Linked DNA regions of Homo sapiens: region 1 is linked to region 2. The links come from fine-mapping of genetic effects on gene expression. A gene starts in region 2. The other region holds a variant in brackets. All regions are shown on one strand. Distances are between the middles of the regions.

The links. PIP is the estimated chance that this variant, and not a neighbour inherited with it, causes the effect. A credible set is the group of variants that fine-mapping cannot tell apart.
Region 1: its variant is the best candidate, but not a certain one, in a credible set for the expression of CDRT8 in atrial appendage (GTEx, PIP 0.86).

What each region holds. Positions count from the first base shown.
Region 1 is chr17:15,041,944-15,050,224 of GRCh38, reverse strand. All of the region lies in intron 1 of LOC101928475 (a long non-coding RNA gene), which reads right to left. Among named protein-coding and RNA genes, the nearest start is that of CDRT7, 15 kb to the right of the region's middle. The variant T/C (reference allele first, on the strand shown) is at 4,242.
Region 2 is chr17:15,102,228-15,110,534 of GRCh38, reverse strand. It overlaps CDRT8 (CMT1A duplicated region transcript 8), which reads left to right and starts at 4,348. Exons shown (of 2, transcript NR_103559.1): 1 at 4,348-4,507; 2 at 4,992-5,550. RefSeq lists an enhancer at 3,366-4,565.

The DNA of each region.
Region 1 (8,281 bases), 60 kb after region 2:
GGTGTGGATTTAAATATTTCCATTTTCCATGCCCATATTAACATTTGACCATCCGTGTGATGTGCCAATTTCTATTTTGCCCTTCAAAGGTTAAAATAACACCCACCCTTAGAATTCCCCTCACAAAGCACAAGGAAATCCCTCCTAAGGCACAGCGAACCAGCTAGACTTCATAATTAGCTTCTGTAATGAAGTACTTAATCGGAATAGAAGCCCTTACTAATTACAGCAGGAAGTCAGGGCAGGCGGGTTACCCACAGCTGGGGTGAAGCACAGGCAGAGGTGTCTGTGAACACGCATCCGCAAGGGTCCAGGTTCACACAAGAGCCCTAGGCCTTAATTAGCCCCAGCAATTAAAAATGAAAACAATCCTCCATTTTCTCATTAAAAGATGAAACCACACCCCCCCAAGCACCTTACTCTGAATGATAATTTTGCTTCTGCAAAGACCCCAGCTACTGCAGATTACCAAAGACAATGGTTAGTTCCTGGGCTGCAAGACCTGAGTCACCCTTTTGCTTGCTAAATTTCAGGCACCTCTGCATAATAGGAGATTGATTAGGGTTAATAGACTTATTTTTTGCAGGTCAAGACACAAAACACTTTGGGTTGTGGGCGCTCTTGCACATAATATCCGAAGCTATAAATCAAACTGCTTAATGGAAGCTCAGAGCTTTCTGTCTCCGAACTATTGGTAACAATTGACTTTTGTTCCTCCCCTGCTACCGTCTCTCTTTCCTCTGCTTCTTCTTGTAAATTCAGCCACAGAATCAGTCTGATAGATAAAGGGTTGTGATTTATTTACTCTACAATGTTTTCAGAAACCTAGAGGTGAGGTATGGTTCCTTGGAATTCCTGTGTTTGTTTTACCTCCATTTCTAAGGTAACCAGTGGCTAGCAGCAGCTGTAACCACTGTCAGCATCTGTCAATCTCACCTAGACCTGATGGTCAAAAGTAATACAGCTGGATGAAGAGATTTAAAAATTAAAAATGAAAGAAAACTGATCCTCAGGGGAGAGTTTGAGAATTTAGTCCGTGGGACCCAGGGCAGACTGGTAGGTCACTGAGTGCATAAGGAATGCAATTGCCATTGGCAAATTATCCCAAGAAGGAAAGCCACATGCAGCGGGAACCTGTTGGAGACTGCCTCTTAAAGTTATGCAGAAAGAATCACTGAAAGGAAACTGTCTCAACAGGAGGAAATGTCAGAAAATGCTTCCCTAGAAAATGTGATAAAAAATTTAGAAAAGTATCTGGCTATGAAATTTAAGAACATTTGGGGGAATGTTCTTTGCACCTAATTATCAGTGCTTTCTGCTTCTTTTCTCTTGGTGAGGGATATTCTTAGTCCAAGGATTTTTTTTCCCCCTTCAAATAGAAAGAAAGCAAAGCTGATTTTCATATATAAGTTGGTTTGGTTTTTCATCAATTTGACAGGATCATTCCAAAGATGTTGCCTTATTTGATTCTGAAACATTATTGAGAGATTTACTCTACTGAGTAACTGAGGACTCACGAAAAATACATTTGATGATATCTGTAAGTTTCTTTGATGACTTGTTCTTTCCTATCCCCGTTTTTGCCTGAATCTTTTTTTTCCTCCTTCTTTCTACTCAGAGCTACATGGCTCAACCACAACCACAAGGAGTCAGTAAGTGGGCAGGTTTTCTCAAACTTCATAGAGCTGTTACTCTACCTGGCTTCTAAGGGGAGACCTGGGAGTTGAGAGAATGAACATAAAATAGTTTGGGTCAGGAGTGGAAAGGGAGGAAAGATTAGAAGGAAACAAGAAAAGCAGAATAATGCACTCAGAATCTGATTTTTATGTTATGGTATACTAATATGGATTTTCCTCCCTTTTTAAACAACATAGAAATTCTTAGTAGAATCTACACATACAGTTTAATAGCAGAAGTAGATGGAAGTCCCTTGATGCCAATAATAATAGATACCTAGTCATAGTACCCCTCTCACCCTCAGTAGCCTCTGGCAGCCTTGCTGAAGGCTGGGGCCATCAGACCTGGGAATGCAGCTGTGAGCTGGGACTAAGGTTTTGTTGCCCTAATGGAACTGGAGGAAAGGAGGTGTATCTTTGGCATTGCATGAAGTGGGTGGCTGTAATTGAGCTCCCTTCTACATAGCCAGGATCCTCAAATGGCCTCCAAGTTTAGAATAATAATAACAAAAAGAAAAATTTGTCTCCGGGCTTGGAGACATTGTAAGAAAGCACAGGGTCTGTCTCAGGCTCCAAGTAAATCTTTAAAAATTAGACAATGTCCTCTGAAAAATCAAAATGTCAAGTCTGCACTAAACATGGGTATAAATTCTGAATTTATATGCATGGTGTGATAATCCCAAACTGAGAAATTGACATAAAGTGGTCCAGAATTCACTGTGCTCCTGGGAGAAACCAATAGAACACTATTCTTAGGATCACTCAGACTATTCAAGAAACCCTCAATAAAGCGGGTTCATCAAGGAAGAACTCATAAGAAAATTACGATACAGGCAAAGAAGCAAAAAACCATGAATGAGAATTATTAAGGCAGCAGATAGGAGAACTAACACCCAGACAATTAGAAACATAGCAAAAAAACCACCTGAAGAAGATTAAAAGGAAGATCTAAGATCCTTTCATTGTTTGAAGAAGGCAGAGAGGTTGATAAAACTATGTTGAATATGTTTGCTAAAAATATAAGGATAATGAACTGAGAAATAGGGAAAGAATGTACAACTTTTGAACAAATCGAAGGAAGAGAAGAAAATTCCCACATAATTCAATAAAAAGCAAGAAAGGAGGAAAATAAATGGAGAATGATAATTAAAAAATTAGAAGGTAGAAAAGTGTTCAGATATGCCAGTAGTTCTAAGTGTAAACGTATTACACTGTTTTGTCAAATGACAAAGATTCTCACACTGGAATAAAACAATCAAATAAAAAAATACTAAATTATATGTTATTTTTAAGAGATCCATCTAAAATATGATACAGAAAAGTTGAAAGTAGTGGCATGAAAAAAGATACAGTGGGCAAAAAAGAAAAGAAAGCTGATATAGTGACCTTAATATCAGACAAAATCAACTGTATTAGAGATAAGGGGAATCTTTTCTTACAGATAAACACAAGTCACTTGGAAGTTCTAACAGTCTTGAATCAGACAGCCGAAAAATGTGTAACGCAAAAATTTCCTGAATACGAAGTGAATCCAACATTATAGTGGAATTTTGAACACATCTCTATGAGTTACTGAAAAATGGAGATAAATATTTTCTAAGGATATAAATGTTTTACATAACGCATTCATAAAGCTTAATATGATGAACATATTTAGAATGTCCACCCAATATAAAAGAATCCATTTCCAATAAAAAAGCATCTTCATATTTTAAGTAAAGAACACTTATAAACATTGTCCATATACTTGATTACAAAGTCTAAATAAGTATCAAGAAAACAATATAACCCAAACTATGTCTTCTAACAAAGATGAAGTAAGATTATAAATTAATGACTAAAAGATAATTTTAAGAAATTCTATTCACTATTAAGTTAAAAATACTTCTAAATAATTGATGGGTTAAAAATAATTCAAATTGATAGTTACAAAATATTAAGAACAATAGAAATTGCAGACAGTTCATACCACAACTTGTACAGTTAAACTGATATTTATAGGGACATTTATTACCCTAAATACTGTCAATGCTTATATTAAGAAAAACAGGCCAGGTGCAGTGGCTCACGCTTGTAATCTCAGCACTTTGGGAGGCCGAGGCAGGTGGATCACGAGGTCAGGAGATCGAGACCATCCTGGTTAACACAGTGAAACCCCATCTCTACTTAAAATACAAAAAATTAGCTGGGCGTGGTGGCGGGCACCTGCAGTCCCAGCTACTCGGGAGGCTGAGGCAGGAGAATGGCGTGAACCCAGGAGGCGGGGCTTGCAGTGAGCCAAGATGGTGCTACTGCACTCCAGCCTGGGCGACAGAGCAAGACTCCATCTCAAAAAAAAAAAAAAAAAAAAAAAAAGACTAAAAATTAACCAATTAAGCATTTGTCCCAAGAAGTTGAAAAAGCAATAGTGATTAATAGAGGCTAAGAAGGGGATGAAAAGAAGTTGGTTAATGCATACTAAAATACAGTTAGATATAAGGAATAAGTTCTAGTATTTGATGGTACAGTAGGGAGATAATACTTAATAATATATTTCAAAATAGCTAGAAGAGCAGAATTGGAAAG[T/C]TCGCAACACAAAGAAACAATAAATATAAATGTTTGAGGTTATTGATGTCTCAATTACCTGATTTGATCATTAAACATTGTACACATGTATCAAAATATCATATGTACCCCTAAAATATGCACGACTGTTATGTATCAATAAAAATAGTATTCATAAACAAAAAACAAAAAGAAGTTGGAAAAACAATAAAAGCACAAGCTCTCTAAAAGTAAATAAAAAGCAATAATAAAGATAAAAGCATAAATGAATCAACTAGAAAAACTTACAGAGGTTAATAAAACAATGTAAATGGTGTTAATAAATATGAACCCATAGACAAATGAACATATTTGAATAAAAATAACTATAGTTATTTCCTCAAGAAAATAAGAGAAAGCCTGAATATACCCATAACGTGCAAAGCCATTAAATTAGTATCCAGGTTCTGTTAAAAATAACAAACATCTAACTGAAATAAAGAGCCAAAAATAGGCAAGTCATCTTTTAAGAATAATAAAGAAAAGCTTGTCTTGAAAGAGAGAGACCAATGGAACAGAATTATAGAATTAAGCATTGAGAAACAGCTGATACAGGACAGAGAAGGCACTCCAGATTTGTGAGGAAGGGATGAACTGTTCACCAAAGGATGCTGGGGTAATTAACTTTGCTGATGGAAAAGAGTAAAGGTAGATTCCCTCTGGCAATGTCTGGCCTGGAAGGTGGGATTTGTGGCTGGGGTGTAGAACGTTTAGCTGTATCTATAATATTTCATTTCTTTAAAACAGTATCTAAAATTATATAAATAAATATGGCAGAATGGTAATGTTTGTGAAATCCAAATCATTATACATTGGGGTCTGTAATATTTTCTTTGTACTTAATTGTATGTGGAAATGTGTGTGCCTATACATTATATATTTATTTGTAGAATGAATATACTATATAATAAATATGTATGTGTAATGCATTCTTTTTTTTTTTTTTTTTTGAGACGGAGTTTCGTGCTTGTTGCCCAGGCTGGAGTGCAAGGGCGCGATCTCAGCTCACTGTAACCTCTGCCTCTTGGTTTCAAGCGATTCTCCTGTCTCAGCCTCCCGAGTAGCTGGGATTACAGGTGCCCCCCACCACACCTGGCTAATTTTGTATTTTTAGTAGAGATGGGGTTTCACTATGCTGGTCAAGCCAGTCTTGAACTCCTGACCTCATGTAATCCTCCTGCCTCGGCCTGCCAAAGTGCTGGGATTATGTTGCATGAGCCACCACGCCTGGCCGATGCATTCGTTTTTTAAGCCAGCAATTGTAAGTAGGAGACAAAAAAGACCTTTTATGTTATGCTGAGGAGTTTGGACTTCATCCTCAGGGCAGCGGGGAGCCACGAAGGGCTTTTAGACAGGAAGGTAAATGACTGCATCATCTCGTAGGAAAGATCTTCCTGGCTGCAGTATGGCAAATGGATTAGATGCAGTATGGCAAATGGATTAGATGCTGGAGGTGCAGCCATCACTGAAGTAGCTGTATTTCAGGGTAAAGATTATGGTGCCTGGAACAGGGAAAACAGCAGCGATGATGGAGACAGGTGGGTTGACTGGAGAGGGGGTAAAAAGAATTTCCAGGCTTTGTGTTTTCTTGGTGGGTGTGGAGAGGTGGGGAAGAGTCTGGGCTCCTCCCTGGGTCTGGGCCTCAGGACGCTGGGTACCTACCATTCCCTGAGAGAGGCTAGAGGAGCAGGAAGAGTTGACTGAGTGAAAACTGGAATTGAAATTTGAATATACTTTGTTAGAAGTGTCCTACTGCATCCAAGTGTAGGGTTATTAGGTAGGTATTCTTTTTTTTCTTTCTTTCTTTCTTTTGAGACAGGTCTCACTCTGTTGGCCAGGCTGGAGTGCAGTGGCGTGATCTTGGCTCACTGCAACCTCTGCCTCCCAAGTTCAAGCGATTCTCCTGCTTCAGCCTCCCAAGTAGCTGGGATTACCAGGCGCGTAGCACCACACATGGCTAATTTTTGTATTTTGAGTAGAGACGGGGTTTCACTATGTTGGCCAGGCTGGTCTCGAACTCCTGACCTCAGGTGATCTGCCTGCCTCGGCCTCCCAAAGTGCTGGGATTACAGGCATGAGCCATTGCGCCCGACCCGGGTAGGTATTCTTTTTTTTTTTTTTTTTTTTTTTGAGACGGAGTCTGGCTCTGTCACCCAGGCTGGAGTGCAGTGGCACCATCTCGGCTCACTGCAAGCTCTGCCTCCCGGGTTCACGGCATTCTCCTGCCTCAGCCTCCGGAGTAGCTGGGACTACAGGCACCCGCCACCAAGCCCGGCTAATTTTTTGTATATTTAGTAGAGATGGGGTTTCACCACGTTAGCCAGGATGGTCTCCATCTCCTGACCTCATGATCCACCGGCCTCGGCCTCCCAAAGTTCTGGGATTACAGGCGTGAGCCACTGCGCCCGGCCCCAGGTAGGTATTCATGATGATGGAACCCTGTTTTAACTAAAGCTTGTCTTAGAATTGTAGTAATCTAGCATGGCTTGAGTCTTCATCTGTAATCTAGAAATTTTTTATTTGTAATTCACTACTGTCAAGTAACAAACTCTCTTTCACTAGCTTAGAACCTTCAAAAAATATAACAAATCAGAAATTAACTTTTGAATAAAATATAACCATAGGGTACTTCTTTAATTATTTAACAAATTTAATGTCTTGTCTGATTTTCTTCTAATTTGCCTGTCATCAGTTTAATGATGTTACATGTCTAAAATGCTGTATAAATGTAAAAATTACTATATCTTAACAAAATTATACATGAAAAGGTTAATTTGACCCAACGAATGATAAACACATGCTAATTCAACAGGTTAGAAGAAGGTTTCACCAGTTACTCTTATTGATACAATGATTACTCAGGCCAACTCATATTTTAGTTTTTCTTTTCGAAGTTATTTCTCTGATATTGAGGAGACACTGTAATTTTAAACCAAGAGGGACTATAAAGAGGTGTAATTCATCATTGCCCAAGCTATCCTCAGTGGACATCTTCAAGATGTTAACAGATGTTCCATTAAAAAAATTTAAAGGGTAATGTGGCAAAGTAAGTTTGGGCAATGATAAACCTTCCTCCCTCTGAAAAATCTGTCTGTGAAGAAAGATGTTTTATTCTGTTTGATGTGGAATAATTACATCTCCCATCTCACAACATTCTTTTCCATGGAATACCACAGTAACACTCTGTGGAAGGCCTGAATGGTACCCTGGCACACTAATACTCCACAGGATGCAGAGGTAAGTTAATCTCACAGATGAGGACAGGAAGGCGAGGTGTACTTCTGTGTGCCTTCTCCAGGTTATGGTGTTGGCCCAAGCTAAGCCAAAGCAAAGATTCAGGCCTCCTGGACCCCCGATTCAATAACCTTCTACTGCATAGACAGTAGCATTGTCCGTTTTGACAAATAGCACGGGTGGTGTTGAGTTCCTTTCTTTCTTACATGTTTACATTTCCTTCATTGAGGGAAAGGGAGAATGACTCAGACTCAGCAGGGGCCAAAGCTCCCTGGACCCCAGCTTGCCCCCTCCCACACCCACAGTCCAGGGCTGAGGCTTTTCTGAGCTCCCTGCGTGGAAGGTGGGGAACCCATAGGTGAGGAGCCCACACCGTGTGCTGGGGAGTTCCAGGGGTTCCTGGAGGATCATGGTTACTCTCCTGAGGGCACAGGACATGGAGCAGGGAGAAGGGCTGAATAAGACCCAGATCCAGGTTTGAGATGAAATGTAGAACTGCCATGGAGGTTGTGCACTGCACAGCTGTACACAGTGGTGTGAGAACACCAGGAATTCCAGCTCCCTAGCCGGTGGGACTGGGGATGGTGAAGAAACAGCAGAGAAAACAACCAAGTTCAAAATTGTATGCTCCAGAGCCAGTTAATGCAATAAAAATAAGGGCCATAACTTCGAAGCATTTAGTGAAAGACTGTCCCCATTTAATATTTCAACATCAAAATCACCTTTGGAATAGGTATTTTCACCCCTATTTCACACTTAAGAAAACTGAGGTCCCAAATGATATGCTC
Region 2 (8,307 bases):
GTGGGCTCTGTTTCTGGTCTGTACACCTCAGTGAACACCGTTCCTGCTGGGCCTCCCTGACATCCTCCTCGGCTCCAACTCTCACTGGGCTCCAGTAACACCAAGTTGCCTCAGGCCTGGGTATGGCTACCCGATAAAATATAGGACATCCAGTTAAATTTAAATTTCAGTTAAGCAACTAGTAATATTTTTAGTATAAGTAAATATAAGTGCAATATTTGGGACATACTTGTACTAAAAAATTATTTGCTGTTTATCTGAAATTCAAATTTAACTGGTGTTCTGCATTTTTATTTGCATCTGGTGACCCTAGGCCAGGGGATTGCAATGGCCTCCCATGTTGCTAGTCTCTGGGCGCCTCACCATCCTTCACTGTTTCCCTTAAATGTGCCCACAGTTCTGTGTGTCATCCCTCCCCTTAAGAGAATTACAATCTGAGTTAGATGCTGTTTCCTTCTGGGGTGATGACTGACATGCTGCCAGTACATAACAGGCCAAGGGAAGCACTGGGAAGGGGTTACACTTGGGGCTACAGCTCCCAAGACACACAAAAACTTCCAGGCATCCTCTGATTGAGCCTGTAAACCTTTTGGAATCAGGATGAGGTTGAGGAGGTGGGATTAGGCTGAGGGGGTGGGGATTAGGCTGAGGGGTACTAGGTTGGGCAGAGGGGGTGGGGATTAAGCTGAGGGGTGGGGATTAGGCTGAGCGGGAGGGGAATGGGGTGAGGGTGGGGATTAGGCTGAGGGTGGGGAGATTAGGCTGAGGGGGCGGGGATTAGGCTGAGGGGTGGGGATTGGGCAGAGAGGAAGCGCAAGGTGCAGGTGTAACAGCACTCAGCTAAATTTAGGGATTGAATTGCTTCACCTCTTCCTTTTTGCCAGTCTTAGCCTTACAGCCCCACTGTATTATAAAGCAGTCATAAGAACAAAAGCTTGGTATTTTACTCATTCTTTCAACAAATATGTATAAAACCTTGCTGCAAGCCTGGTTATGGCTAAGACACTCTTCAGCCATCTAATCTGTTTCTATTTTTATATTAGTAACCTTTGATAGGTTTTCAGACAGTCCCAGATGACTGAGTGTTGGGACCCTTTGTCCTGGGTCAGGGGGATTGCAGCCTAATGTTTCAGTGCTGTGTCTCCTCCCTCACCCAGTAGGTAGTTTTAGAGCTACTAGATTCTGACAGCTTGTGTCAAGTCCCGTTTATTGCTCAGAAATCAAGAGGAAAATCCACTCTGCCAACTCCCTTGGGATTGTTCTCAGTCGAGGGTGGTAATGGTTCCTCTTTAAAATGATGCTGGAAAAAGTGGGCTTTATTCCAAATGCAGAAAATTGTGTAGGTCAGCAAAACCTGAGAGAAGAGGCAAGGAACAATATACCCATGTCAGAGGGGCTCTCTGGACCCTAACTTTTTCAACACCCCATTCTAATGTGTGTTGAGGTTTTAAGAAAATTAGTGCATCTTTTAGCCACTAAATTCATCAAACTATGGGCCTTTCCAAGAGAGAGATGCTATTTCCAAGATGTTCGTATTCTCAGGACTCAGCACAGTGCAGGCATAATGTGTGCTCCTGAATTAATCTAACGGCCTTATCACCAAGGAACTAGGCCATTGTGTGTATTAGTGGAGTCTCAGCTAGCTGACTTCTGCCTTGTAAGTGCCAAATTTTAACTTGAACCTTATTTTTACTTTTAAATCAATTTCATTGAAGTAATTGGCATGCAATAAGACACACCTCCATTAGTATAGAGTTTGGAGAATTGACAAATATATACATCTGTGCAACCACTTCCCAATCATTATATAAATCATCTCCATCAACCCCAAAATTCCTTTGTGGCCCTTTGGAGTTAACTCTCTCCACTTGACCATTTTTGATGGGAATTTGTCTAAAACACACCCCCACCACTTCATTCCCTGAGAATACCCAATGCAAGTGCCTTTACTATTGACTCTCCGAAGCCTTCATTATGAATATCGGTTTCTGTGGTATCTTAGAAGTGGGTGAAGGAATTAGGCTATTTTGCTTCTAGTAAACTTGCACTGTTTTGGCCGGGCACGGTGTCTCACGCCTGTAATCCCAGCACTTTGGGAGGCTGAGGCGGGTGGATTACGAGGTCAGGAGATCAAGACCATCCTGGCTAACACGGTGAAACCCCGTCTCTACTAAAAATACACACACACACACACACACACACACACACACACAAAATTAGCTGGGCATGGTGGCGGGCGCCTGTAGTCCCAGCTACTCGGGAGGCTGAGGCAGGAGAATGGCGTGAACCCGGGAGGCAGAGCTTGCAGTGAGCCGAGATAGCGCCATTGCACTCCAGCCTGGGCGACAGAGCGAGACTCCGCCTCAAAAAAAAAAACCCAAAAAACAAAAAACAAAAAACTTGCTCTGTTTTGCTTGGGAGGTTCTTGTTGGCTGTTGTAAAATTGTTAATCTTTTCTCTTACACATACCTGTCACTTTTATTGTACGTGTAGTCTTTTTAAAAATCAGTGTTCCTGCTTCTGACCCAACAGCATCCCTGACCCATTTTCTTTCTTTCCTTTTTTTTTTTTTTTTGAGACGGAGTTTCACTCTTGTTGCCTGGGCTGGAGTGCAATGGTGCAATCTCGGCTCACTGCAACCTCTGCCTCCCAGGTTCAAGCAATTCTCTTGCCTCAGCCTCCCGAGTACCTGGGATTACAGGCATGCACCACCATGCCTGGCTAATTTTTTGTATTTTTAGTAGAGATGGGGTTTCACCATGTTGGTCAGGCTGGTCTTGAACTCCTGACCTCGTGATCCACCCACCTCAGCCTCCCAGAGCCCTGGGATTACAGGTGTGAGCCCCCGTGCCCGACCCCCGACCCATTTTCTTATTCGCCTCTTGTAATCTACTATATGGGTCAAAACACCAGATAATCAATCTTATTAAGAATTAAAAAAATAAGTAGGGCACTCAAGAATAAATGGGTCCAGATTCAGTGCATGGACTTGGTGGCATGTGTTTGCTCAAAAGTCTTTTATCCTCCTGGCTCTGGGCTTTGGCTATGTGAAGCCTGGCCATCCTCAGTGCTCAGCTTTTCTTTGACTCAGCAGAGGAAACACAAGTCTGTCTCTTTGATTGCCTCGGGGTGCCATTTTCCACACCCACTTCTCCAGGCCAAATGAGAGTGATTTCACCCGTGCCACAGTTAGAGTTTTCAACTGCAGAACGCAGAAGCTTTCTGTTAAATTCTAGCAGTGTTTTCTTTGAGAGTTTTAGAACAACTGTTTTATAGCAACTATTCCAGTTCCACCACCTGAACTCTTTTATATACAGTAATTTTTAAAATCTCCTATGGTGTCTCTTTAAGAGCCTCTCCAGTTGGCAGCCTTTTCTCTTTGGCTTCTTACCTAGCTCTGTCCTTCTTTGTCCTGCTCTGCAGCATCACTGAGAACTGTTGTGTACGTGCGGACTGTGGGGCTCTTGGCCACACTGAATGGGCCCACAAGGGAACCCCTGGGACACCCTACATTCATTTGGAAATGGCCAAGAGGACTTAGAAAGAAAATAATTGATCCCGCCGTTTCCAAAGGATGGGGGTAAATGCGGTTGTGAATTCTTATGGCTTGGTGAGTTTTGGGTATCCTTCTTTCATGAAATAACATTCAACAGTGGTGTGCAGGCTGCAAAAGGCAGATGAACTTCAGCAACTCTTCCTCAACATGCTGTAAAGGGATAACTCTGGGTCCTAAACACTGAAGCCTGTGCGGGCCTACCTAGCCGAGGCATTCATGATGAAGGGTGACTCATCACTTCCTTGACTCTTAGGCTGTGAAGAATGAAGGTGGGTGGCTGGGCAAGTCACGGTGATCATGGCATTTTGCACTGATTGTGGAGCCTGTTGCTATACAGTGGAGGGGCATTTGTAGGTGGTTTTGAAAAGTAGAAGTCCAGAGAGTGAGTAAAGAGGGAAAAATCAACAGAACTGGGAAAGATGACACATATAAAACCTGAATTTAGTTTAAAAAAACTTTTAAAGTTACTTCTAACAGATAAATTGATCTTGTTTTAGATCATTTTATATAGAAGGTAAATAGTACAATTTTAATCTGAAATGCAAGATAAAGATGAATTGTTTTCCAACAGTTTGTATAATTTTCATGCAAAAAATGAAGGATACAGTAACTCCTTTGTAATGGATAATTTCTGGATGGTTTCTCATTTATGGACTGAATGTATACTCTTCCTCCTGCTCCCACGCAAACTCATATGTTGAAATCCTAACCCTCAATATAATGGTATTGTGATGTGGGGCCTTTGGGAGGTGATTAGGTCATGACAGTGGAGCCCTCATAAACGGGATTAGTGCCCTCATAAAAGAGATCCTGGAGAGATCCCTCTCTCGCCCTCTTTCCACCAAGTGAGGATATAAGAAGTCAGCCATCTGGAAACTAGGGAGAGAACCCTCATGGAACCTGACCATGCCTGTACCTTAGACTGACCTTAGACTTCCAGCCCCCAGAATTGTGAGATATAAGTTTCTACTGTTTATAATCCACCCATCTGTTTTACTTTGTAATAGCAGCTTGAACTGAGATAGGTTCCATTTGCACATGATCTACCTGGGTCACCTATGGCTCGTCCTGCTTTGCTGTTCCTCCAACATTCACCGAGACCTGACTTTATATTCTGTACATATTTGCTGACTTATGTAACATCTGTTTCCCTCACTAGTGTGTAACACCCATGAAAGGAGGTGTTTTATGTGTTCATTTATGCATTCTTAGTGCCTAGGATATGCCTGGCACATATTTGTTAAATGACTGAGTGAACACCAGTGGCAATTTCTTTAAAAAAAATTGATAGCATTGAAAAAATATGGTGGCAAAAGTAATACATTTTCACAGAAGATATTCAGAAAATATAGAAACAGAAAGAAAAAATAAAAATTAACCCCAATTTCACAATGCAGACACAACAACATAAACATTTTGATGTTTATCCTTCCAGGAGTTTTTCAAAGCATTCGTTGGCCTATCTAGCAGGGACTGAGTGAGATGGTACATTGTATATTTATCAAAAGATGCTTCCAGTTTCACCTTGGCCTGGGCAACTGCAGACAGTCTTCTTGGATGATGCTTGTGACTCTTCCCGCAACACCTGAGTGGCCCCTCATGGTTGGGTACATGGGTCCCAAAGCTGAGCCTGAAGTCGATGCTGGGAACTGAGTCACCAAGGGCATGGATGCTTCCATCAAGGCAGACAAGATTTAAAAACCTAGTTTCAGTGGCACTAATGAGACCAATAGCAAACCCAACCTGGGACGTCTTAGGAGACTGGTCACAATTTCCATTTCTCTCTCTGCTCGGCGTTTTTGCACAATCATGAAGAGTTTGGAGAGCAGGAGGAGGCCTCAAAAAGGACATCCTGAGCTTCTTGATAGTGTGTCCGTTGAAGGCCTCATCACTTAATTATAAAGAAAAGTTTTGTTATTAATTTGTCTCCTAAGATTAAATGGATCATATTTATCATTAGGTGCTTTTTAAAAAATAAAATTTACTCCTATTTATTTTGATTCATTTTTTATCATTTCTAAACACTTCCGAAAATGATAAGCTTCCCTGGATGAATACTTGCTTCTCTGACCTGTATAAATTTGCAAAAGGATGAAAAGCAAATAGGAGGAAAGACTTCAAGGCCTGGTGTCTTAAGTTTGTCCCCCCATGAGGAGATAAGGATTCAAGTGCAAGGGGTTCATTTTGGAGGGGGATCTGGGAAGCACCAGGAGGGGTGGAGGAAGTGAGAATGGGCAGGAAAGGGGAGAAAGCCAATTCAGGTGTGCCCACAGCAGGCTATGTCAGAGAGCACTGGTGCTCCCTCCCATCGGGACTTCTGCCAGGGCATGTAGATGCACCTCATGCCTGATGGATGCAAAGCTGAAGCATCTGGCACTAATGCTCATTCATGATTGGTTGCAGGCTGCTTCTGTAGGGGGTCACCCCCTGGTCCTTCTAGCCCGCCCTGTGCACAGGTTGAGGACACTCCTGTGGCTGGAGAAAGCTGGATCTGAAGGTTGTAGAAACTCGCAGAAAGAAGCCATCAAAGTGACTTGGAAAGGTGAGTGCCTGCAGAGGGGCAATGGGTGGGACAGCAGCCTGGGAGATTATTGAGCCTGGCTTCACTGCTAATACAGTGCTGTTTTAATTTCCACTTGGGGCCAGGTGCGGTGGCTCTCACCTGTGATCCCAGCACATTGGGAGGCTGAGGCAGGTGGATCAACTTGAGGCCAGGAGTTCGAGACCAGCCTGCCTAACATGGTGAAACCCTGTCTCTACTAAAAATAGAAAAAATTAGCCAGGCATGGTGGTGCATACCTGTAATCCTAGCTATTTGGAGGCTGGGGCATGAAAATCGCTTAAGCTTGGGAGGTGGAGGTAGCGGTGAGCTGAGATTGTGCCACTGCACTCCAGCCTGGGTGACGGAGAAAGACTCTGTCTCCAAAAAAAAAAAAAAAAAAAAAATTCCATTTGGCCATGTTTCCTTGCTAATAATAGGCTACTTAGATGGAAGGTTACTTGATAATAGGCTACTGGATGGCCAGCTCTGTACTTGGGTCAGTCTTGCTAAAAGGCAGGATTCCCTTGAGGGGTGTGGGTGCGGAGCAAAGTATTGACAGCTAATTGTCATAATAAGGATACCTCCTTTCTGGAGGTAGGAGTCTTTAATTCATTCCTGGGCAGCATTGTCTATCTTCCCCCTTCAACCCTAAACAACTCCCTAAATATCTCCATGTCTGTTGTGGAGGTCTAAAAGGACCTCAGGCTACTGTGGGCATCTCACTGGGTGACCCTTCCCTCAACCTTAGCAAACCTCCCTTCTGGGGACCCCTTCTCTGCATTTGTCTTGGTGGCAAAAGTCTGACTGTTAGTGCTGGACTCTTGGTTTACGGTGAGAGAAGAAGGGGAAGAGAAGCATTCTGACAGCCACAGATTTAAAAAATGTATTTTGTAAGCGAAATATTTCATACTGCCTGGAGATCTTTTTTTTTTTTTTTTTTTTTCAATTGAGACAGAATCTCACTGTGTTTCCCAGGCTAGAGTGCAGTGGTGCAATCTCGGCTCACTGCAACCTCTGCCTGCCAGGTTCAAGCGATTCTCCTGCCTCAGCCTCCTGAGTAGCTGGGATTACAGGTGCTTGCCATGACACCCTGCTAATTTTTGTATTTTTAGTAGAGATGGCGTTTTGCCATGTTGGCCAGGCTGGTCTTGAACTCCTGACCTCAGGTGATCGAGCCACTTCAGCTTCCCAAAGTGCTGGGATTACAGGCATGAGCCAACACACCTGGCCAGATCATTTTTATGGTTATATTTGTTGTATTGAAAAAACCGGGCTCTTTGGATTTCTCCATTAATTTTTATACCTTTCCATTGTTTATGTCTGCAAAGAATTTTTCAAAATGTCTGCTATTATGATATTCATATACCAGAAAGTTTTTTAGGGCTTTAGGGCTATAATGATTTAAAATCTATCTATCTATCTATATCTATCTATCTATCTATCTATATCTCTATCTATATATAGATTTTTATGCTCACACACATATATAAATATAATCCAAATATATATAATTCAAGTATATTGTAATTCAAATATGCATATATATATACTTTCATCAAGAAAAATCTCTATGCACTGACATGGGGATATATCTGTAAACAATAGTTAGAGAATAGTAGGTTTGTGAACAAGAGCAACAATCCCTCCTCCCCTTCTGCCCTCACGACCCTTCCTCTGTTTAGAGAAAGGTCTGGAAGAAAGCGCACGAGACATTTAACAGTGTTTTTGTGTGAAGAGGAGACGGCTAGGTAAGGAGATTTTCACATTTTATTTTACACATTTCCCTCTTGTCTGATTCTACTTTCAAGAAGCATGAACTTTTACAATTAAAAATTTTTAAAAATCCCAAATCCTCAGCCTTTCCCCTCTTCCAGAGGTGCCATAGGAAGCCCCTCCCCTCTTATGAGAGGCGTCATAAAAAGAGGCATCCCCAGCAAAGGCTTCCCAAGATGGGCAGTGCCACTTTAAGTGGTGACCAGGGGCTAGAAGAGGTGGCCTTCTCTGTGCCTTGAAGATACTGAGCTGGGTTCTGCTGCAGCAGAAGATGGAGATGGAAGTATGCAGAAACCAGCTCTCTCCACCTGATGGGAAATAGAGCATTGCTACAGGAAGGCAGCCCCAGGGTCAGATGAGTGAGGGACACAGGGTAAATGCCAACAGGCAAGCGCCCCTAGGTGGTTGGATACTTATAGTGACCGATCCCACGGAA